3 separate regions of the Homo sapiens genome follow, and all the other regions are linked to region 1. Evidence: fine-mapped expression QTL. A gene starts in region 1. Each other region holds a variant in brackets. All regions are shown on one strand. Distances are between the middles of the regions.

Region 1 (8,186 bases):
ACTGCTGAGAGAAGGAGAATGGATCAAGGCCACCCTGCTGATTAAGAGCAGAGTCAGGAGAGGATTCTCGGTCTATTTTGCTTTCTTCTGGACTGTGGCCTAAAGATGTGTCTTTTGGCATCTCTCTTGGGGGTATTTCTCCTTAAGGTTTTGCCACTACACTGCAGGTCTCAAACTCAAATGCCTGCAAGGGCTAACTGGTAATAGGAATGAGTGGAGGAGGCTGAGTATTCTACATTGGGAAGTAGTAGTGAACTATGGTCCTCAGACTGGAGCCTATATACCCTCTGTAAAGGCATCTAAACTAAAATGTTTTTCATTTTAAGAAGTACAGGACCGACAAAACACATCTGGGAGTCAGAGATGGCTTGATGTTCCCCAGTTGAAGTGCCTTGCACTATGTATATCTATAGGCCTTATTCAATAAGGAGATAATCTGGATTATGGCCCTCAGGCACATTGCCAAAGTAAGTTTCAATACTGTGCATTGATTTATGTTTGTTAAAACAGAAAATTGAAGAGACGCATTTTAGAAACCTGATCATAATATATTTTGTAACAGAGAGAACAGAGTAGAAGCTCTGGCTTCATTTACTGTCTGCTTAGCCAAAACTCTTTGTGGTCCAATTAGCCAAATGAATTCAGATGTCACAGTGTATAGGACATTCATAATTGGGAACACTAGGACCTCTTAGTACCAGAGATTGTCCCATAACATAGACATTCAAAAACATTTATAATCAGGACACACAGTGAGAAATACATTTATATCATTACTGAGCAGAAACATACACACACTCATACATATCACACAAACCCAAAACAATATTTTAAGAAACAATATCTTACTGCGTTCCAAACTCTGATGTTTTCCAACCTATTTCATTTTTATGAAAATACTTTATAATTTACTCATCGGCTACAGCATATAGTTTAAATCACTGGACTAGGTAATGCCATGACATTTTTGTTTATTCATTAATTCAGTAGATATTTACTCAATATCTAATGAGAGCGAGGTGCTCTTTGGAGTGTCATGGGGGACACAAACATGAACAAAACATGGATTTTTGCCCTCAAAGAGTCCAAATCCAATAGGAAATACATACACGTGAATATTTAAAAACTCAGGGCAAAACAATCAGTTCACATTTGACAAACTGCTTTTATGTTATCATAGTCATAATGATAACAAATCTCTTAGGTAAGCTGGGCAGATTTAAACTTAATTTTACAGATGGGAAGTTGCATTTTTGAAAAAGTGACATTTTAAAAAGAAGTGGAATGATAGTAATAATAGATAGCATATGTTAAGCACTTATTATATGTTAGGAACTAATTTACTTCTTACTATAACCTTATTATGATGGCATTACTATAATCCTCACTTTACAGAGGAGAAAAATGAGGCAGAGAGGTTAAGTAACTTGCCCAAAGTCATAGAGCCAGGAGTCATTGGAACTAAGAATCAATCATAGGCAACTTCAATTTTTTTTTTTTTTTTTTTGAGACAGAGTCTCGCTTTGTTGGCTCACTGCAAGCTCCACCTCCTGGGTTCAAGCGATTCTCCTGCCTCAGCCTCCTGAGTAGCTGGGACTACAGGTGCCTGCCACCACGCCTGGTTATTTTTTTGGATTTTTAGTAGATACAGGGTTTCACCGTGTTAGCCAGGATGGTCTCAATCTCCTGACCTCGTGATCCGCCCACCTCAGCCTCCCAAAGTGCCAGGACCACAGGTGTGAGCCACCACACCTGGCTGGCAACTTCAATTTTAATCAATGTATTATATTCTCTGGAAATGAAAATCACAGATCAAAATCCTACATAGGTCATGGCATACATACCTTGATCTCTTAGCCCACCCCAAAAGTGATGTGGCATCTGCTGTGACAGGATAGCATTTGGAATGAGGTGTGTATGAAGGGGATGGGGTGGAATAGAGCCTGGTTCCTCAGTATTCCTCAGTGTCACTAATCTTCATCAAGTTAATAAAGCACCTGAAGGCAGCAAGAGAAAAGACAAAGGGAATGATTGCTGTCCCCAGAAGAGGGCATCTTATCCTTTGCCGTTGTCTCATGTATGATGTAGTATTTTTGAGATAAGTTATGAAGTAGTCTTGAGTTTGGAAAACCAAGAGTTAGGCTGTAAATGTTCACCTTGTGTTTGACCAGTGCCACCTCCCTTAAGCCCAAATTCTCATTCAAAGTTACAAAGACAATTTTCCATTAGGATATCCCTGGAAAAAATAATATTTAGCCTTTATTGAGCTTTTCCCATTTGAAAAACTAAGACTGCCAGGCGCTGAGCTTAAAGCTGCACCCAAGACAGACCAATAATGGTAATAGAGAACAATTGTTAAGTACTACTCTCTCTCTCAATCTGTTTCTCTCTCTCTCTCTCTCTCTCTCTCTCTCTCTCTCTCTCTCTCTCTATATATATATATATATATATATGTTAGGTACTAATCTAATTCTTCTATATAATGATGGTACTCATATTATGCTTGTTTTATAGAGTAGAACAGTGAGATATTCATTGATAAGTATATGAATTTGATCTTTAGCACAGTAAAGAAAATTTTAATGTTGAAATTGGTGCATATCCAAATTTAGGCCCAAGCCCTAGTTTTTAGGCTGTTGTAAATTAACCTAGTTATTGTATTTTCCTGCCTTAATATGCTTCTTATATCTTCAATTTTATAGGATTATTAATAGTTATCCTGATTGACTTTATTTATATTAAGTATAAAGATAAAATTCTTATAGCCCATTCAGATTTTTCTTTACACTTGCAAACTCCAGAGATAGATATTGAAAAATACAAAGGCATATGTCTCATCTATAATTTCTTTCAGCAATATGTCTGCAAGTTGAGCAAAAATAACTGAAAGTGCTCTTTTTGAAAATAATAATTTTCACTTTTCAAAAATGATCCTGTATTTATTTATTTATTTTTTGAGACAGGGTCTCAGTCTGTCACTGAGGCTGGTTCTAAATTCTATTAATCCAATGATTATAGTCCAGCATTTGTCAGGGCACATGATGAACACTAGGTATTTACTGTCCCTGTGTGTCTGTAATGAATTAAAAGAAAAAGTACAGAGAAAGATTATTTAAGATGTTATGGGAAAAGATTTACTAGACTTCACAGAATTATTACTTTAGTCAAGTAACTAAAATAATTCAATCTGACAGATTTGGAAAATTGAAAGTATAAAAATTTGTTTTAAAATTTTTATTGCAGTTTTTCCTGCCACCATTCAGATTGTTTGATCTTGTTATAAATGAGCATTAACTCTGATTTGCAATTCAGGTCACACCATACCTCATCAAAGAATGCAGTTGGGAAAGCAACTGGCCAGGAAGTTTAGGTTTCCCCAGAAGGACTGGAAGGATTTAGAAAACATTTCTTTGGACTTCTTCTGGTTGATGCTCTTCCTACAAGAATCTGTGTTTGGGTGATCCTTGTACAGGAAAATGTCTCTTAGTCCAATTTATTTTATGTAGAACTGTGTAGAGCTAGAGCTTCCCGGAAACTTTCTGAGACCCAAATCATCTGGACTGAAGTCTCTTAGATGCTATTGTTTGATTTTGTGTCCTTAGGTGATTGATATAAGGACAGCAAGAGAAAACCATGTAAGATGAGAAGAAAGCAAAGCTGGCTTTGTGTATGGGCTCAAGTACATTTTACATGCACGTACTTTTTTCCTGTTTTGGTGAGGAAACTCTGTCAAATGACTCTTGACGGGCGCCTCACTTAGTCCCTCCAAGTTTTAGTAGAGAAAATGATAATTTTTAACCAAGACTTACTTGATCTTGACCTAAGATGATGAGAATGAGCAATCCTTCTGAAATCTTATTATTTTAGGTGAAAATAAACATTCGATAATTACATTTTAAGACTTACCAGAGTTTATCCAGGTTTTGTTCAGATCCAGAACTTATACAATGTCGGAGTCTTCTTTTAAGAATACACGATGACAGATACAAAATTAGGTACACAGCTTAATTAACTTCATGATAAATTCTCTTCTGATTATGAGTTACTGCTTTCTTTGGCCAGAATTGTGAAAGAAAAATAAGGCGTGAGGCTAGAGGATGGGGAAAAAAAATCCTTGTCTATCTTGCTTCCCAAGCAGGCCTTCAAGCTAGCTAACTGAAACAGTCTTTTCTCCAGGTCCTAAGGTAAATGGTGGCGGATCTGAAAATGCGTCGGACTTAACCTTGCCCTTCTCCCCAGTTTATTCGCTCAACAAAGAGTTCTAAACAGTCACATCTGCTCTCTAGGCAGAACGGACGCTGCCTCCTAGTATTAGAATACCCAACTCTTTGATATCTCCCTTAGGGATCATCCCTATTCTGGAGAATGTGCAAAATATTGCTCTTCCTTTATATCCTAGCATAGATATATTCTGGCACTTAACATGCATTCTTTTTCTGTTGAATTGAGTTACAAGTCAGTTCTCTAGGACGGTTACCGTCCTGGTGGCTTTGGCGGAATCTTCCGGTGAAAATAGGCTAAGTTGCATGAAATGGGTGTGTCTGGATTTTACCACAAGACCCCTGGTCCTCAAAGCTTCGCAGGCCGAGATACCTCGCCCCTTTCTTCTCTGTCACACGCGTGCGAACACACCCTCCCAACCCACGTCGTAGTAGTCCCCTCCCCCGACCACCCCGCCCCGTTTCCCTTCAACCCCCCTCCTCACGAACCTCCCCTCCCTTCCTACCTCCCTTTCCTTCCCTCCCCGCGGGCCAGCGGCTTTGGCGCTGCCCTGCTGCGCGGCGGGGCGACGCGGCGACACCTATAGGATTGCTTCCGGGCACTCCTCAGCCAGGAGGTGCTGGCCTGGGGCCCGGAGCTCGGCAGGGCCGGGCGGCTCCGCGGCGTTGGCCCAGAGGACGCGCGCCCCCGCCCGGCCGCGTCTCCTTCCCTCCCTCCCTCCTCCCGGCGCCCCGAGCCGAGCTCAGCCCAGGGCGGCGGCTTCGCCTCGCCCGGCGAAGCTTCTCTCCGGTGGCCGCTCCTTCTTTTCCCTCCTCTTTGCGTCATGTCGGGCACTTAATTTTTTTTTTTTTTTAATTCCTTCTTCAGCCCTTTCCACCTTCCATCTCCCTTTTCGCTTCCCAGGTTGATTATTTTCTCTTTTCTCCGGGCTTGCCCATGAGCCTCCTCGGGAGCTACCGGAAAAAGACCAGCAACGATGGTTATGAATCTTTGCAGCTGGTGGACAGTAACGGGGACTTAAGTGCGGGAAGCGGCGGGGTTGGCGGCAAGCAGAGAGTGAACGCCGGGGCAGCGGCGCGGAGTCCCGCCCGACAGCCTCCGGACCGCGCCAGCACCATGGACAGCTCAGGTAGCGCTGCCCGAGGGGAGTGCAGCGCTGAGCCCCGCGCGGCCTCCGGAGCCTCCCAGTCGCCCGGCCCGAGGCCCCCCCGTGGTCCCCCAGCCCCGGTTTGCGAGAGAGCCGGGCTGGAGGCGAAGGCTTCTAATACCACCTGGGTGTCGAGTCTCTAATTTCTCTCATCCAGGGAGCTACGAAACGTTAGATCAGTCCTGAGGCCCAGAGACTGTAGCGAGCTCCTCCTAATCTCTCTAGACTGCTGAATACGGCAGCTGGGGGCGGGGAGGGGGAGGGAAGGAGGAGGGGAGGGGTGGAGAAGAGAGGGGAGCGGGTGGGGCGAAGAACGGCTTGGGAGGAGGGCTGGGAGAGGCAGCTGCTTTCACTGCCCAGCTGGATGAGGGGGAGAGGTGAAGGAGCATGTGCGTTGATTGTTTTTGCAGCATGCAGACGGTATTTATTCCAATTGTTATTCTTGCAATGCTGATGCTATTTGCAATTCTGTAAAGCTCTGCCACATCTTAACTCAGCCGTCTGCTAGGGTTAATGTTACCTTTCTCCTGCAGTTTTTAACCTGGGATCTAGAGCTCTTTTACACAGCTTTTACTGTTTGCACAATGAAATTTATTTCATGTGTTGGCTTTGATCTTGTTTGTCCTTTTGCTTGAGTGTACAGATTTCATAAACCTTTACATGTAGGGACAAGGAAATTCCTCTAAACTTTGTATCGGGGCTTGCAACTGTCTTTTATAAAAGGTTTGGCAAGTTAGAGTCCTCTCTTGGAACTGCTGTTGGCATTTGCGATTTCAATAGCAAAACAGTCATTTAATATATCCATGTTGGACTAGGAGTATTATTATAGCTATTTGCTTACTTCTGCAGGGAACCAGGTTCGGAGAATTGTTTACAGAGATATTTATAATTGAAGTCCTCAGTGGTTGGTTCTACACTGGTAACTTTAATACTGGACAACTGAGGATTCCAGAGGAAAGATTCATATGGGGTCGTTTGAACAGTAATGAAATCAAACTGAATTTAAATGCCCTGCTTTGCAAACAAATGCTTGTTTATTTTAATTGTGTAATGGCTGTCCTTGGGCTATTATTTTCTATTTTCCTTGTCCCAAAGTGGGATGAAATATTGTCCACAGATGCTCAAATGTCCTGGGCTGAAAACAAATTCTACTCATTGAAGCTCTTATTGAAGTTAACCAAGATATTGATGGGACATTCTCTTAGACCATTTTAAATAAAACTAAAATGATCCCCAAGGGATTGATGGTTTCAGGACTGTTTTTTTTTTTTTTTTTTTTTTTTTTTGAGGCGGAGTCTCACTCTGTTGCCCGGGCTGGAGTGCAGGGATGCGAACTCGGCGGACTGCAAACTCCGTTTCCCGGGTTCAAGCGATTCTCCTGCCTCAGCCTCCTGAGTAGCTGGGATTACAGGCACCTGTCACCATGCCCGGCTAATTTTTGTACTTTTAGTAGAGACGGGGTTTTGCCATGTTGGCCGGGCTGGTCTTGAACTCCTGACCTCAGGTGATCTGCCTGCCTCGGCCTCCCAAAGTGCTGGGATTACAGGCATGAGCCACCGCGCCCAGGCAGGACTTTTTTATTGATGTTGTATGTGGTTATTCAATGTATGTTTTTTCAAATCTGTGATATATCAAAGTGTAATCCATCTTTTGACTGGATGTAATCTCCTTTAAATCTTAAAAAGATTCATGTTCTCTGAATGATGCCACCATAATAATGTTTACATGTAGTGAGCATGTAAACAATTGAAATGAAAACAAACATATTCCAAATGAGTGTGAAGGAGCCTCACTTCAGGAAAATGAAAGAAATATGAAATACATATGTTTTCCTTTTTCATAGGGATTATTATTTTAAGAGTTGAAATTGGTTTTTGAAATATGTTACATTGTAGAATAAGTTCAACATACATTTTCTGAGCCCAGCTATGTGCCAAGCACTGTGAGGGAACACAGTAGTGAATGAGATCCTTCTGGCCTCTAGGGGACTCTCAGTGGGGGCAGTAACTATAACACAGAGCAGCCTATGGTAAGTCCTGGATTTTTGAGGATTGTCTTTTTCACTAAATCAGACTTTTTTAATAGGTGGAGAGAAGAATAATGGATTGCTTTAATAATCTGTTGTGATGGGAAAGTGTTTCATTAAGAATATTGTTATCTCTAAAGTGCTATTGCCAGGAGTTGATTCTTAAACTTGATCAAAGTGGTGTTGTGTGAAGAGGCTGCAGGGATTCCTTTTCTCCTCCCCTTATCCATCATTCACTCCTATATTTTATTAGGGGAATATTGTGGCTTTGTTGTAGAAGTACAGGGTATCTTACAATGATTTTGATGCATATTTTCAACTGAGAATGATTTGTTTGGTTTGAATGAAGGATTGGACTCTGAGAGTAGGATTCTTTTACTAGTACAACTATATGTCTTGCCTAATTATAGTTCTTTCTTCTAAGATCCTCAAAGTGTGGCCTGTGCAGTGTAAATATATCCATTTGTTTAGTATATCTAATTAAGTTCATGGATCATTTCTAAAGTGGCAGTAATCTGCCCATTTATTCAACTGATTGTACTGTGACATGCTGGATAGGATCAGTGGTTTATGGGACTTTTGCTCTGATAGAAATATTAATGAGTGGAAAAAATATGTTGACATCTCGCTACATGATTTAAAGCTTAGTCTTAATAATACCTTAAACTTGTAAGACTGTTTATAATAGAACACTTGGACAATTCTCTTATTTCATTTCCCCAGAATTTTATTAAATAGGTTGGGGAAGCAGCATGTGTCTGTGCTTGGAGACTTGGGATCAAACCTCTGCAT
Region 2 (8,186 bases), 91 kb after region 1:
ACGTGTGGCTGTTGATGACTCTACATGTGGCTAGTCTGATTTGAGATACACTCCAAGTATAAAATACATACCAGATTTCAAAACTTAGTACAAAAAGGGCATGTGAAACATCTCATCAATATTTTTATATTGATCATTTATTAACATAATATATTGAACATACTGGGTTAAATAAACTATATTATTAAAAATAATTTCAATAGTGTCTTTTTACTTTTTAAAATGTGACTGCTAGGAAATATAAAATTACATATGTGGCCCAAATTATATTTCTATGTTAGAGACTTAGGTTGTATAGAAAGAGTAATAATAATCACATCCATTTATAAAAGTGTGTCACTTAGGTAACATTGATTAAAACCGGAGGTCTGCAGTGAGGGATAAATAACTTTGAGCCAGAGAGTTGTAGCTCATTCCTGATGTCGAAGTCTATTGAACATTATTGGCCACAACCTAGAAGGTGACGTATTGTTGAAGGCATCCTGAGCTTGCTTGGAGAATGCAGTCCAGTCATCAGTTGACTTTGGGAAACCATGCCAATGCAAAAGGAAGATGACTTTTGCAACACTGGTGAAACTGAAACTTGACTAAAAAAGATTCCAGGAACAACTTTTGTGGTTCATTTCCAACTAGTCTTTAATCTCAAACTATTTGAAGTGCATCCTCAGGACAATATACAAGAAATTCCCCTCTTACCTCTGAGTCATGCTCACTTGAGAGAGTCTCCTGATTGGATGTTGACTACCTGTAGGAGAAAAGATGCAGGAATGTAGAGTAGAGTTGGTTTTCTCACTCATTTAAAATGTTAAGTCATGTCATTGCTCTGCTCAAAATGCCTCCCCATTTTACTCAGCATGAAAACCAAAGTCCTTGAAATGGCCTGTGTAGCCTCTGTATGCTCTAGCATCTCAGTGCCCGTGACCTCATTTCCCATTCTTTCCCACTTTACTCTCTGCATTCCAGCTGTACTGGCCTCTTTGCTGTTGCACTGGCTGTTTCCTCTGCCTCATACTCTTCCCCAGGCATCTGCATGGCTAAGTCCTTCACCTCCTTCAAGTGTTTGCTCAAATGTCACCTTCTCAGTGGAGTCTACTCTGATTCCTCCGTTTCAAATTGCAACTCGTCTCCCTGCCCTACTCTACATTCCCCTTTCTGTTGTGCTTAGTAACTTCCAGTATATGCAGTAATTAACTTATGTGTTACATTTTTTTGTCATCTCTCTCTCTCTATTAGAACATGAATTCCACAAAGGCAGGGAATTTTGTTTTGTTCATTAATGCATCCATAGTGCCTAAAAGAATTACCGGCACATGGTAGCTGCTATCTATCTTTCCAATATTAAATATAAAATGAATTAACTCATTTTTCCCATCAAAGTTTCTTTGATGCACAGTGATAGTGTCATAAGGCTATATGTTTTCCTGATTTTAATACTTTGAAATTATTGTTTTAATAAGAGTACTACCCTTTGTGTCCCATGGACGTGGGTGTTCATACTTGGCAGCTTGGCAGTTTTGGATCCAGTTTTCTGTTTCTGATGAGCTGATTAGAACATGGTGTTTATAACCCAGTTTAGGCCAGTTAGTACTCCTTTGTTTTGTGGTTACATTTCTCATTTTGGTCTGTATTGTACTAGCGAGTGGAAAGAATTTTCTCCTCTCCTTGTTGGGAAAGCAATGATCATTTCACTGTTACTGAATCAACTCCCCGTCTTCACATAGGACAGAATATAGGTGACACTCAGATGTCTGCTTTGGGAGGTCAGACATCCTCAGGGTACTTCCCCCGGGTTTCTGCAAGGCGTCGCCAATCTCTCATGAAAATAAAAAAAATACTGCCTTTGGGCTCAACAAATATTTATTGAACATCTATTCTGAAGAGAATAATCACTTGGGACATGATGTTGGAAGAACAAATAAATAATCATAATAAAAGGCAAAATAGAGACTAAAATATTAGGTAATTACCTTTTTGAAAAAATATATTCCTGTTTCTCTAACAGACCTTAAGTTTCTTGAGGATAGATAATGCATCTTTCAGTCTCTGTCCCCTGATGTGGTGCCTTGCATGTGGTAGGTAGTCATAAGGGTTTGTGGGTTTGATTAGCAACAGGGTTGAAGTTCTGATACCTACTTCTGCGTCTTAATTGGATGTAAGACTAGGATCAGAGCTTAAAGGAAATCAGATAGAACGTACTAGCAAAACCGTCTAACTTCCACCTCAGTGGAATGGGTTACTGTGTAAAAATAGAAGGGATAAATAGAAAAGAAAGAATTATTATTGCTGATAATGGCATATCCTTTTTAACTTAATGATGGGAAGGTACTAGATGACTTGGTTGGTACTAAGTAAACAAAACAAGGAAATAAAAGGTTTGGAATGCTAATCTTGATGCCTTCTGGTGGTGATGGGGTGTGTGTGTGCGTGTGTGTGTGTTTTAAATCCCAGTTGCAATGTCAGTTTAGTATTTGCATTTTAATAATTGATTTGTGTGGGCAAAACCTAGAGGTGCCTCAGAAAGAAATTCTTCATCATGGCATCCTGTTTCCTATATAGATTTTATAGATGTGTAAAAAACTTACTACGCACATGTATTCCTCTAGTACACCTGATTCCTTTTAGCCAAATATTTCTTTTAAATTATATGTTTGGAACTTTGAGGGGGGGTCAGAATGATTTATTTTGAAGCTGTAATGAGTTTATTTTGAGTACCATAGACACATCCCTGACAACCAGCATAGTGATGATGTATAGCCAGTGCCCAGTACATGTTCTGCATGACTCATTATTCTCAACTCATGTCACAGCAGAGGAGAAAACAAAATGTCAGTTTTGAGTGGATTATGCTTCTATACTTAATGCTTAGCAAAGGTAAACTGAGCTTAAGGTGTTTTCCCCCTTTTCTTATTGCACACTGACTCTGTGTTAAATTTAGAGGTGGGACACACACACATAAGATAGTTCTTTCCTGACTTCGAGGGACTGACAATTGAATGGAGACAGACACATGCTCAATGATAACTCAAAGCGTGTGGATATGGAGGTAAAACCAAAGTGAGACAAAGAAGGAGCAGAGACAAATAATATGTCGTTTCTGTCAAGCCTCATGTGAACAACCAGAGGTGAAGGCAGAACATATTGAATGTTGCAGAGTGTGGCAAGAACTCAGAAGGAGGAGTGGATATCTTGGGATCTTGCTGGGGCCATGCAGGCTTCAGGGATGGAATGGCATTATCCTGTGTGAACTCAGAAAAGTGGGTTCTGAGCTCTCTTGTTCTCATTCTTTTTCTTTTCCCCATTTGCAGCTTCTAGTACGCCTGCTGTGAACATTCAGCCAGATGTTTCTGGAGGTTGGGACTGGCATGCTAAACCAGGTAAAAGCAGGTTATTTTCTGTACACATTTATATAATTGCAAAAGCATAATCCTTACCCAAGATGAAGTGAGTACTCACAGAGTATTGTGGCCTACCTGTGTAATTTGTGTCACTTTTTCCTAAAGATTCATATTCTAGAAGAGCTTTTCCCAATGCACTTGATGACATGATAGTGCTACTTATCATACACCATTTAACTTTTCTAAATTTCATTTGCTGAATGTCTTATCTTGACAATAGAATCAGACGGATATAAATATATATCAAACTCTATCACTTAGAAACTCTTGGGTTTTTTTGGCAAGTCTGAGCCTCAGTTTTCTTATCTGAACAATGGGGATAATAATTTTGGTCCCACATAGTTGTGTAAGTTTAAATAAAAAAAACTTATATAAGAATTTCTGGCACAGTGTAGATGCTGACAAATGTGAATATTCTTCCTTCTTTACAAAGTACTTACTTCAGGGTGGGATTTGTCTGTCATCAACAAGGTCTCCTCCTCATGACCACTATGGCATTTATGGAGCTGTCTTGTGTGACTGCTCCTGACATTGAGCAAGTTAAGTGCACGCGTGCACATACAAACACATACACAATGGGCTTATCACAACAACTTTCTGAAGCAGTTGCTGTTTCCTTTTTTTATTGTAGCAACCCCTTCCCCACAACGTAACATTTACCCTGCCAATAATTTCCAAGTATACAATACAGTATTATCAGCTACATGCACTTTGTTGTGCAACAGATCCCCAGAACGAACCCACCTCCCCACTGACCTTCTCACATAACTGAAACTCTACACTCACTAAATAACTCCCTACCTCTGCCTCCACCAGCCCCTGGCCACCACCCTTCTACATGAGTTTGACTACTTTATATACCTCCCATAAGTAGAATCATACAGCATTTGACTTTTGTGGCTGGCTTATTTCACTTAGTATAATATCCTCAAGGTTCATCTGTGTTGTAACATGTGACAGGATTTCCTTCTGTTTTTAATTTAAAAATTTTTTTTGGCTGGGGCGTGGTGGCTCACGCTTATAATCCCAGCACTTTGGGAGGCTGATGTGGGAGGATCCCTTGAGGCCAGGAGTTCATGACCAGTCCGGGCAACATGGCAAAACCCCATCTCTACAAAAATACAAAAGTTAGCCAGGTATGGTGGTGTGTGCCTGTAGTCCCAGCTACTTGGGAGGCTGAGATGGGAGAATTACTTAGGCCCAGGAGGTTGAGGCTGCAGTGAGCCGAGATCACACCACTGCACTCCAGCCTCGGTGACAGAGTGAGAAACCTGTCTCAAAAAAAGATTTTTCTTTAAATTGACAGATAAAATTGTATGTATTTGTCGTGTACAATATGATGTTTTGAAGTACA[C/T]ATACACTGTGATATGGTTAAATGTAGCTAATTAACAAATGCATTTCCTCACATGGTTATCATTTTTGTGGTGAGAACATTTAACATCCATTCTCTTTGGATTTTTCAAGAATGTAGTAGATCATCATTAACTAGAGTCACTATGCTGTACAATGGATCTCTTGACTTATTCCTCCTTTCTAGCTGTAATAATATATCCTTTAACCAATGCCTCCTCATCCCTGCCCTACCTCCAACCACCCCAGCACCTGGTAACCACCATTCTACTCTTTATTTCTATGAGACCAACTTTTTTAGCTTCCACATGTGAATGAGAACATGCAGTATTTGTCTTTCTGTGCCTGGCTTATTTCACGTAACATAATGCTCTCTAGGTTTATCCATGTCATCTCAAATGATAGGAATTCTTCCTTTTTATGGCTCAATAGTATTCTATTGTGTATATACACCATATTTTATTTATCCATTCATCCATTAATGGACACTTAGGTTGATTCCATATCTTGGCTGTTGTGAATAGTGCTGCAATAAGCATGGGAGTGCAGATATCTCTTTGACATACTGACTTGATTTCCTTTGGATATATACCCAGTAGCAGGATTGATAAATCATATGGCAGTTCTATTTTTAATATTTTAAGGAATCTCCAAATTGTTTCCCATAATGGCTGTACTAATTTACATTCCCACCAACTGTGTCCTTTTTTCTCTACATCCTTGCCAACATGTTTTTTGTTTTTTTTAATAGCAATTCTGACAGGAGTGAGGTGATATGTCATTTTGGTTTTGATTTGCATTTCTATGATGATTAGTGTTGTTAGGATTTTTTTATACATCTGTTGGTTTTATACGTCTGTTGGTTTTCTTCTGGTATTCATCTGTATGTTTTCTTCTGGTAATTCCATAGTTTTGGGTCTTACATTTAAATCTTTAATGGATTTTGAGCTGATTTTTTTATATGGTGAGAGATAAGAGTCTTTTTACCCTGTTGCCTTCTTATTCTGTTGATTGTTACCTTCCCTGAACAGCAGTTTTTAGCTTGACAATTGTCCCATTTGTTTTTCTTTTGTTGCCTGTGATGTTGGTTTCATATTATTTCTCTTTTTTAAAACTAATGGTAAAATGCTGAAGCTCAAAGATGTTAAGCAAGATTCCCACGGTCACTCAGGAATTGGCAAAGCCAGAATCCAGATCCAGACCTAACTTCGAATCTTATAGGAAAGAGTGAAGTCAGGTGACATGAGGACCTGGAAATAAAACAAACACTGGAAATAATAGTTCACACTTGTGGCCTGGAAACAGCATTTGTCTTTTCTGTGGTCTGTCCTTGTTCAAGGCCACCATTCACCCAGGTCAGGGAAACAGGGTCTAGCAACTTCTTAGACATTTTCAAACCCTGTCCTAATTTGCCTAGGAGACAAATAAACAGTAACTCTGGAATTCTGAATTTCACAATTCAGCCTCAAACAACTAACTCATTTTCAATGACCTTATTTCCTTTTCAGGAGGCTTTGGAATGGGAAGCAAGTCAGCTGCCACCAGCCCAACCGGATCCTCGCATGGTACTCCCACCCATCAAAGCAAACCCCAGACTCTGGATCCTTTTGCCGACCTTGGGACACTAGGTACAAACTCAGAAGATCAAGATACAAATAACATTTATTTATAGCTATAAAGCCTCAAATCTCAGTCTTTGGTGTTACAGCAAGCTGGTATTGTCACCTGGAACCTCAAATAGTGTGTATTCTTAAGCTATCCTCTGAAACCTGAGATTGGCTTTTTAAAAAAGGAAAGCGATAATCAGATGTGGGGTTAGAAATCATCTTTATTGATTCATTTCTCCAGTGCCTAATTCTGGATGTGTAGCATGAATAAAGTTAGAGCTTTCAGGGGCTCATGGCAACAGAGTTTGGCTGCGCAAAAGTAATGCGTAGGGAAACAGTATGAGACAGGGCTGGTCAGATGGATTTGTGCCACATGATGCCAACCTTGCAGAACACTAACTGTGATGCGGTGATGTTACCTGTGAGATCTTCACACCGTTCCCCTTCTCTCCATTAACTGTGGTGCTCTCCGGTCAATTTGTAAAATTCTATACAGAAAATAGACTCAAGTATCGTATTTCCAGAATATTTTCACCATATGTTAATAGATGTTACAGGATAAGTGTTCTGAGAGCAGGTGAGATTGGGAAGCACTGGTTTCAGTGGATTTTGATTACCACTAAGAGGGACACAGTATCCAGAGTTCTCAAACTGATTTCACCAAGGAGCCTGTTTTCAAGGAGGGGTTCACTGGACTACTATGTTCTGAAACATTTTCTTCCTCCTTTTTCCTTCCTCCTCTAGGGCAGTGCAGATTTGTTAAATAAGGGTGGGGTAGCCCTGACACAAAGGTTTATCTTGGCTATATTGATAGTCTGTGATCTCAGAAAGCCCTACTGAGGCATTTAGAGCCAGATGGAGGGAATGTGAGCCTGGCTACCGTTGTTGTCTGTAACTAGTGTCAGCATCTTTATCTTCCATTCTGTACTATTTAGATGTTTTTCCCTTTTAAGAACTCTCAAAATTATTTTATGCAGTCATTTTCTTCTCCACCTTTCTTTGTATCTTACTGAAAATTTCAAATTTTAAAGTAATATTATATCAGATGAAATTTTACTTCAATAAAATCTCATTTATTATTTATTTTTAATGCATTTAATGCATTGATTCATCCAACAAGTATTTAAGGCACTTTTGTGCCTTCTAGGTGCTAGGACTGTTTTAGTAAAAAAAATAACCAAACAAAACAAAACTCCTGCCTTAATAAAACTTACATTATAGAAGGGGAATCAAATAATAAATTAACAAATATATAATGTCAAATAATGAAAACAATAAAAATAACAGTTAATAGTTATTGGGGCCTTACTATGTGCCAGGCACTACTTAAAGTGTTTTACATATATCATTTCATTTAATCTTCCTCATAATCTTTTGAAGTAGTGACTGTTATAATCCTCGTTTTACAGATGAGGAAACAGGGACACAACAGGTTAAGTAACATGCACAAATCACAAGCTTTCAACACCAAGAAGTCTAGCTCTGGAGCTTGCACTCATAAAAGGTTTAGAGGTTGATGTAGCTGAGTGTGGGAAGGGGTATCAGTTCAGTTCATCCAGTCAATGGTTTTCTACCCTTGAGCATTAATTCCCTCATTTCACAGGTATTTTTGAGTACTTATTATGTGGTAGGCATTCAGGATGTAATAAAGAATCAAAGCTGATGATATTCCTGTTCTTTGAAACTTGCACTACAGTGGGAGGAAGAAACTTTAATCAAATGTAAAATATCCGCTACTGTAGGGGCTACACAAGATGGAGCATTTTTTAAAAAGCTCCCCAGGTAATTCTAATGCACAATCAAGGTTGAGAACTACTGCTTTGCTTTTAATGAG
Region 3 (8,186 bases), 31 kb before region 1:
TATAACTTATGACTTATTTTTTAGTTTTTTGAGATAGAAGGTATCTTTGATTTTCAGCTTTTCTTTTAAAAAATATTTTCATTTAAGGCTACACATTAATATCCTTTAAGCCGGCCAGGCGTGGTGGCTCACGCCTGTAATCCCAGCACTTTTGGAGGCCGAGGCAGGTGGATCACAAGGTCAGGAGTTTGAGACCAGCTTGGCCAATGTGGTGAAACCCCGTCTCTACTAAAAAATTACAAGTATTAGTTGAGCACGGTGGTATGTGCCTGTGATCCCAGCTACTCGGGAGGCTGAGGCAGAATTGCTTGAACCCGGGAGGCGGAGGTTGCAGTGAGCCGAGATCACACCACTGCACTCCAGCCTGGATGACACAGCAAGACTCTGTCTCAATGAAAAAAAAAATCCCTTAAGCTATATATATAATATCCTTTAAGCATAGCTTTTGTGTACACCTGCAAGTATTGTTATATTTTCATTATTTAGTTTAAAATATTTTATACTTTTCTTTTTGATTTTTTTGACCCATAAGGTAGTGTAACAACATACTTTTTAATTTTTAAACAGTTGGGGAGTTTCTAGTTCTCTTTTTGCCATTGATTTCTAGCTTGCTTTCACTGTAGTCAGAGAATATATTTTGGATGACTTGGAAATGTTTTAGACTTGCTTTGTGACCCTTCATATGATCAATTTTTATATTTATATGTTGTACTTAAAAGAATGTGCATACTAAGATAGTTTGGTTCCATGTTCTATATATGTTAATTATTTCAATTTGTTAATCCTGAGGTGCGGATCTTCTGTATCCTCACTGATTTTTTTCTCATTCTGTTGGTTCCCAAGAGAGGGCAAACTCTTCCATTATAATTTTAGATTTGTCTATTTTTCCTTTTATATTTGCCAATTTTTGCTTTACTTTGTGGCTCTGTTATTAGGTGCATACCATATACAGTTATAGTTGTTATATCTTCATTATGAAATGTCTTTCCTTATCTTGAGCAATACTCCCTTATAATCTACCTTTTTGATATTAATGTAGCTATACCAACTTTCTTTGTGTTAATAGATACATGGTAGATCTTTTCCCATTTGTATACTTTTTCTTTTTTATTATTATTATATATTTTTTTGAGATGGAGTCTTGCTCTGTCATCCAGGCTGGAGTGCAGTGGTGTGATCTTGGCTCACTGCATCCTCCGCCTCCTGGGTTCAAGCGATTCTCCTGCCTCAGCCTCCCAAGTAGCTGGGACTACAGGCGTGTGCCACCACACTCAGCTAATTTTTATATTTTTAGTAGAGACAGGGTTTTGCCATGTTGGCCAGGCTGGTCTCGAACTCCTGACCTCAGGTGATCCACTCACCTTGGCCTCCCAAAGTGCTGGGATTACAGGCATGAGCCACTGTGCCCAGCCTATACTTTACTTTTTTCTATACCCATATATGTAATCTGTATCTTTTAGAAGCAGCCATAAGTGAATTTTTAAAAATCTAGTCTGACAATATGGTCTTTAGTTTGAATATTTAAACCATTTAATATAATTATTGATGTGTTAAGTGCTATAGCTACCATGTTACTCCTTGTTTCTTATTTGTGTCCCATCTGTTTTATATACCACTTTCTTTTGGATTAATCAAGCATTATTTTTAACTTTCCAACATATTCTTTACACATTTGTTTTCATTTTACTTTTCTTTGTGTGTATGTGCGTGTGTGTGCCTGCGTGCGTGTGCAAGTGATTACCCCAGTGCTTCTTATATTTAATCATGTTTCAGACAATGTTAGGCGCTTAGAAGACTTTAACTCCATTTACCCTATCTTCTCCCTCACCTCACTTTCTGCCTTTTGTATTATTATTGTATTTTGTTTTAATTATACATTTATTAAAGCCCCATAGGACACTGTAATGATTGTTTTATGGAATAAATATTCATTTAAATTTACCCACATATTTACCCTATTCATTGCTTTTCATTTCTTTCGGATTTTTTGTGTATTCCCTCTGGGATCTTTTCCTTTTGCATGAAAAAAACTCCCTTTAGGATTTCTTGTAGTGCATATATGCTAGAAACAAATATTCTCAGTTTTTATGATCTGGAAATGAGTTGATTTTGTCTTTGCTTTTGAAGGACAATTTTACTAGGTGTATAGAATTATGGGGAAGCAGGTGTTCCCCCAGCACTTTAAAACATGTTATCCCATTGTCTTCTGGTTTTCATCCTTTCTTGGAAAAGCAGGCTGTCAGTCAGTCTTATGTTGTTATTTGGTGTTGCATCTTTTTTCTTCGGCTGTTGTTAAGACTTTTCTCAATTGATTTGGTTTTCAACACTTGTCCCAGGTGTGGTTTTCTTTGTATTTATCCTGCTTGGGGTTTTCAGTCCTTCTTGAATCTGTGCGGCTTGAGGTTTTTTGTAATTCTCATAATTCCCTGCCATTATCTCTCCAAACAGTGTTTTGTTCCTTTCTCTCTTTCTGGGACTCCGGGTACCTTTATGTTAGAACTTTTTACCCTGTCCCATATATTCCTTCATTTTCTGTATACTTAGCCCTTTTCTTTCTTTTTTAGTTTTGTTATTTTTTTGCTGGCCTATCTTAGAGCTTACTGGTTCTCTCTGCTATGTTTAACTTGTTGTTACAGAACCATTAATTTCTTAATTTTGTTTTGTATTTTTCAGTTCTAGAGTTACTATTAGATTCTTTTTTTTTTTTTTTGAGACAGAGTCTCCCTCTGTTGCCCAGGCTGCAGTGCGATCCTGGCTCACTGCAGCTTTCACCTCCTGGGTTCAAGCGATCTTCAGCCTCCTGAGTAGCTGGGATTACAGGCATGTACCACTATGCCTGGCTAATTTTTGTATTTTTAGTAGAGATGGGGTTTCGCCATGTTGGCCAGGCTGGTCTTGAACTCCTGGCCTGAAGTGATCCGCTCACCTTGACCTCCCAAAGTGCTGGGATTATAGGCGTGGGCCACCGCGCCCAGCCTCTATTAGATTCTTTACCAAAAGAGATTCTTCACCTTGTCATCTGTTTTCTCAAATACATACATCACAGTCATCTTAAAAAACTTTGCTCAGTAACTTCAATGTGTGGGCCACTTGTGAGTCTTTTTATCTCTTCTGTTTTTCTTCTTGGTTGTCTTTCTTCATATGCCTGGCAATTTTTTATTATATGTCCAGTATTGTGTATGAAGATGCTCTGGATGATGTCATCTACCTGTTGAGAGTATTTTTCCTACTCTTTGTCAGAAGTAGAACAGAGATCACTTCAATCAGGCACTCAGTCTAATTAAGGCTGTTTTGCAGACTTTTAAGGTTTAGTCTACTTCTGGTTCTCCTAATCCCAGGCCCCTAGGGAAACTGACTGAGAGTCTGAGATGTTTCTCACCACCCCTTCCCCTTGACAGACCCTAAACTCTAATTTTTGTCTCTCTAATACTGTGAACTTGCTGAAAACTCTACTCAGCAAAATGTTCATTGTGCTTTTCATTTGCTTTCTCGTTGGCTTCTTAGCCTCTGCTCTGGGCAGCTGAGTCAGGAATATCTGAAGGAGAAAACTCCTGTCAGGCTGTGAGTTACTCTAGGATATGCCTTTTCAGTCCTAAACTCCACTTTTTGTCTCTGCAGCCCTTGAAACTGTCTAAAATTCTGCAGGCTTCTCTGTGTCTTAACAGCTGCCCCTTGCCTGGCTTTTCAGCTTCTTACCCCATGCTAAGAATTGGCATATACCCTAAATAGGAAAATGGGCTTGCAGAAAGTCAGGCTCACCTCAGTGAGCCTCCCCTCTCTCCAAGATCTGGTTCCTCAAATCGTGGCTGATTAGTAGCTTTCCTATTACTTCACACAGATGTTTAAAAATTTTATCTGGCTTTTCTAATTTCCCTCATCAGAACCAGTCTGCTACAACCTACTCTATTAAAGCTGGAAGTTAAACACGTCTGTTTTTTTTTGTTTGTTTTAAGTGGATTATGTTAAAAAATAAAAATCACAGGCCAAAAACCAAGGTAACAATGTCATTTTAAACATGTAAATTTAATAAAGGATATATGTTGATTTTTAGTTACTCTTTCTTGCCTTATTAAAAGCTTGTCAGTACCTTTTTTCATATGTACTCTGAAATTCTTACAAATATATGTTGCTTTGTTCCAGAGAATATGTGTACTAAAAGACTATAATTTTTCTGAGTCTGGTTCTCCATTCAAATGTTTTAATACTTTTGTGATTTTATGATTTGTAATTGTCGACTCTCACCTCCCAATTCAACATGATCCTAAAATGTACAAAATAATTTGAATGATTGAGTTTCAAAAAGTTTTAGAAAACTTGATCTTGTAACTTTTATTCCAAAGCTTTGTTGAGGGGGAGAAGTACAGGCTTCTGCCTTTAAGGGTACTGCTTCACTTTTGGGGCAAAAAAGCAAGGGTTTTCAAAGGGGGACTTGACATGAATGGCATGCAGGGGAGGGGGTGAGCCAGTGGGGGTCTCAATGACTTGCTTTGGTGCTTTATCTACCAGGTGGTTGAGCTGGTGCCCTCGCGGGCAGAACTAGGTGGTAAGGTGGCCAGAGTCTTGAGATACTCTCCAAGTGGGAGTGAGTTTCATCATGGGCATACTTTAGGTTATAATTTGTT[A/G]TCTCTCGAGGCAGTCTCCTGGTCGAAGAGACGTCTGGCTCTGGAGCTTCTAAGTAAGCAAGAGCTTCCAAGTAAGCACACAGATAAGCTTGCCCTACAGGGAGTGTCTGGTGAAGGAAAGGTAAATGTTATAATTGCATTTCTAAAGAGCTAAGTAGGAAGTGGGGAACAAGGGAAAAGGAGGAAACAGAAAAGAAGAAAAAAGTATTTTTTAAAAAAGTAATTCTTTCTCTTAGAAAAAGGTGGGTACTTGGTTACAGTCTAAACCCTTTACCGTGGCTGAGTAGGTATTTTTTCAGCCTCTTTCCCAGGTTGCGCGCTGCGTTTAGTGCTGTCATTCTCATGTGCTTCATGTCACTGCCAATGTGTTCAGCCTCTCAAATGCAAGCTCCGTTCATTTACTCATTCATCTCATATGTTTTTGATCACTTATGTGCTCAGGTCTCCTTTTTCAAATCAATATTATGGCAATTCTAGTAAATGATCAGGGAAATTAAATAGGTCAATTCATGTGACATAGTTCTGAAAGGCAACAGAGTGATTGGTGGAATTGTGGAAATGTTTTTCACATTTCTCCAAATTTTCTTTTAAAATCAGACAAACAAACTGACACTTACTTTTCAGTCTTTTCAGATATGTTCCCCAACTCTGACTCTAGTACTTGAAAATGTACTAAGTAAGAGGGCTTTGGGATGCCAGAAATAGTCTGTTACTTAATCTGGCTGCTGGTTTTTAAACCAGTTTGTGAAAATTCCTGGAGCTCAGCACATGGTTTGTTCACGTTTCAGTATGTCTGTTATACTTTAATAAAGAAAATGAACTTTTTACTGATAGAGTAACAAAGAAAGTGCCAAAGAGAAAGAAAGCTTGAGAACCTCTGATCAAGTTCAGCCTCTTCATGTTATGGACGAGGGAATTGAAGCTTGGGAAGGAAAAATTACCTGGGGACTGGGGGAATGTCTCATAACCAGGACTTGTACTCAGGCCTTCTGACTCCTAGTTCATCTGACTTTCCTAACTCATTGATCAGGAAAGGGGTGGGGAAGAATCTGGCATGCGCTAACATTGGAGCTGGGCGACATTCTCAGAATCCCAGATGTATCCTGCGAGTCAGCACTTCACTCCCTACTCTTTCTGCCCTCCTCCATCCCCTTCCCCATGGCAGTTTAAAAACAGACACTTTTATTTCCTGCAAACCTGGAGATACTTGTTTCATCACCTAAGAATCATTTGACTGCATATGCTGAGAAAAAGGGAAATTCGTGCCTGTGAAATCTAACAAGAGCCCAGCACAAGGTATGTTTGATCCTCTTTTAAAGCCATTTTTAGTTTGGTGCTGTGTGGTTTAAATTTAGAATAACATTTCTACAACTTTGGGGGAGGGGCGGTGATGGTGGCGTGCAGAGATTGAACCCAGCTGTGACTCCTGCTGCTGTGAGATAAATGGGAAAATCTGGGAACCAGTGTTAAAAGGAGAGGGCTCTTTAGAGAGGTAGCTGCAGGGAAGGGGACGTGCCTTAATTGGGATGGGGGTGGAGGTAAGGCCAAGAAACAGTGGGAGCTGTCTCCTCCCCCTCTTGCCCTGTGGGATCTGACCTACTGAAAACAGAGTGAAGACTATTTCTGATCTGGTTTGGAAATCCAGAATTTAATATTAAAATACACGTTAAATATTTCAATAAATAAATATTAATATGTTAATATTAATGTTAAGTCAGAATGTTAAAATATACATCTAATATATATACACATACATGCACATGCATGCACACACACACAGCTTGGAATTGGTAGTGTCATCCTGGCTTCATTTTACATTCTCAAAGGCTAGATGTTGGGTTTCCAGAGTGCTGTTTCTTCTGCCTGAAATACATTTTCTCTCCTATTTGCCTGGCTCAGTTCTGCTCCTCTTTCCAGTAGTAGCTTCCTCTGACTCTAGGTCTCCTTCCCACTCGCTGCCTATAACAAGTTTCCAGAGCATCCTGTGTTTTCCCTTTTGTGTCACTTCCCGTATTTTTAATTATTAGATGAAATTTGGGCACGGCATATGTCCTTAATACATAGAGAAAAGAAGAGAAGACAAGGAGTCAGGGAAGATAAAAGAAAGCTACCCTTGGATCGCTTCTTTTAAACTTAGCAAGGTAGACAGGTTCCTTAACTTCTCTGAGCCTCAGTTTCCTCACTTTCAAAGTGAAAATAGTAATACCTAATAAGGTTGTTGTGAGATTAGAACCTAATAAGGTTGTTGCGAGATTAGAAATAATATATTAAAGGCACCTAGCATAATATCTAACACATAGTAGGTACTCAGTGTAACATAATTTAAAATGTATATATACTCTTAAAAGGAAATTATGAAAATTCAGAAAAGCACAGAGAAAGCCTGTGAAAACATTCATTGTCCCGTCTCTTAGAGATAATTGCTGTTAAATTGAGTGGATTCTTTTTCTGTGTGTATCTTTATGTATCTATATAATGTACTGAGTTCAGATTATTCATATTTTTTTTTCACTTAATATGACGGCCCAAACACTCTCCACATTTTTAGTGTCTGTAAAATACTGCCATGTTATATTTTGTAATAATAACTGGGCCTTCAGTTATTAAAAGAAGATTTAGAAACTGACACTTGATCCATTCAAACTCTACTTTTACCAGGACAATATGTTTACGTGTTAGGAGGATAATTCATATCCCTGGGTAAACAAATGATGTAGTGGACAAGGTGCAAAAGGACTCCTCCCTCCATTCCTTCTTCTCTCTCTCTTTCAGCCTTTCTTGCTTATTTCCATGGATAGGAGGGTTATTTTGATTTTTAAAGTAATGAGGCAACTAGGTGAAATGAAGAAATCCATTGGCCTGGAAGTTAGGAGGTCAGAAATTTTCCTTCTTACAGTCCAGTCACTGACTCACTTTAAGGCAGTCTTTTCATTTTTTGGTCTAATTTTTTTCATTTGTAAACATGGGAGAAGTGGGTTTTATTAGAGAGATTTTCAGACTGGGCTTTTCTGAGTGAGTGTTAGAGTTCTGTGGAGATGTTTTTTCATATTAGGTAGATTTCCTCTCAAGGGAAAATTACATGGCTAAAAAAAATTAAGTTTCACGTTTCAAATTTTATTTTATTTTTTAGACAGGGTCATGCTCTATCACCCAGGCTGGAGTGCAGTGGTGTAATCTTGGCTCACTGCAACCTCTGCCTCCTGGGTTCAAGCAGTTCTTGTGCCTCAGCCTTCTGGGTAGGTGGGTGCTCGCCATTACACTGGCTAATTTTTGTATTTTTAGTAGAGACGGGCTTTCACCATGTTGGCCAGGCTGGTCTCGAACTCCTGACCTCAAGTGATGTGCCCACCTTGGCCTCCCAAAGTGACGGGATTACAAGCCTTAGCCACTGTGCCCGGCTCAAGTTTCAAATTTTAAATGAAATCTCAGTGGACTTTTTCCTTTTTTAAAATTGAGATATAATTCACATACCATAAAATTCACCTTTTCAAAGTGTACAACTCAGTGGTTTTTAGTATATTCATAAGGTTGTACAGTCATCACTACTATCTAATTCCATAACGC

Alleles and levels. Alleles are on the strand shown, and positions count from the first base shown. SD is a standard deviation of normalised expression in the study named. Not every link is listed here.
For the expression in fibroblasts of the gene that starts at base 4,955 in region 1, allele T in region 2 goes with a lower level than allele C (small effect, 0.17 SD a copy in GTEx).

What was found. PIP is the estimated chance that this variant, and not a neighbour inherited with it, causes the effect. A credible set is the group of variants that fine-mapping cannot tell apart.
Region 2: its variant is the best candidate, but not a certain one, in a credible set for the expression of DNAJC6 in fibroblasts (GTEx, PIP 0.51).
Region 3: its variant is the best candidate, but not a certain one, in a credible set for the expression of DNAJC6 in whole blood (INTERVAL, PIP 0.83).

The regions. Positions count from the first base shown.
Region 1 is chr1:65,304,589-65,312,774 of GRCh38, forward strand. It overlaps DNAJC6 (DnaJ heat shock protein family (Hsp40) member C6), which reads left to right and starts at 4,955. Exons shown (of 19, transcript NM_001256864.2): 1 at 4,955-5,350. The coding sequence starts at 5,158. DNAJC6-AS1 (DNAJC6 antisense RNA 1) reads right to left here and starts at 4,646. Exons shown (of 3, transcript XR_007066155.1): 1 at 3,907-4,646; 2 at 1,845-1,997. It overlaps LOC112268227 (a long non-coding RNA gene), which reads left to right and starts at 6,656. Exons shown (of 2, transcript XR_002958317.2): 1 at 6,656-8,186.
Region 2 is chr1:65,395,508-65,403,693 of GRCh38, forward strand. DNAJC6 (DnaJ heat shock protein family (Hsp40) member C6) reads left to right here. Exons shown (of 19, transcript NM_001256864.2): 14 at 3,306-3,374; 15 at 6,254-6,373. Among named protein-coding and RNA genes, the nearest start is that of LEPR, 21 kb to the right of the region's middle. The variant C/T (reference allele first, on the strand shown) is at 4,750.
Region 3 is chr1:65,273,205-65,281,390 of GRCh38, forward strand. It overlaps DNAJC6-AS1 (DNAJC6 antisense RNA 1), which reads right to left. Exons shown (of 3, transcript XR_007066155.1): 3 at 5,021-5,095. It also overlaps a transcript of DNAJC6 not described here. Among named protein-coding and RNA genes, the nearest start is that of DNAJC6-AS1, 32 kb to the right of the region's middle. The variant A/G (reference allele first, on the strand shown) is at 4,623.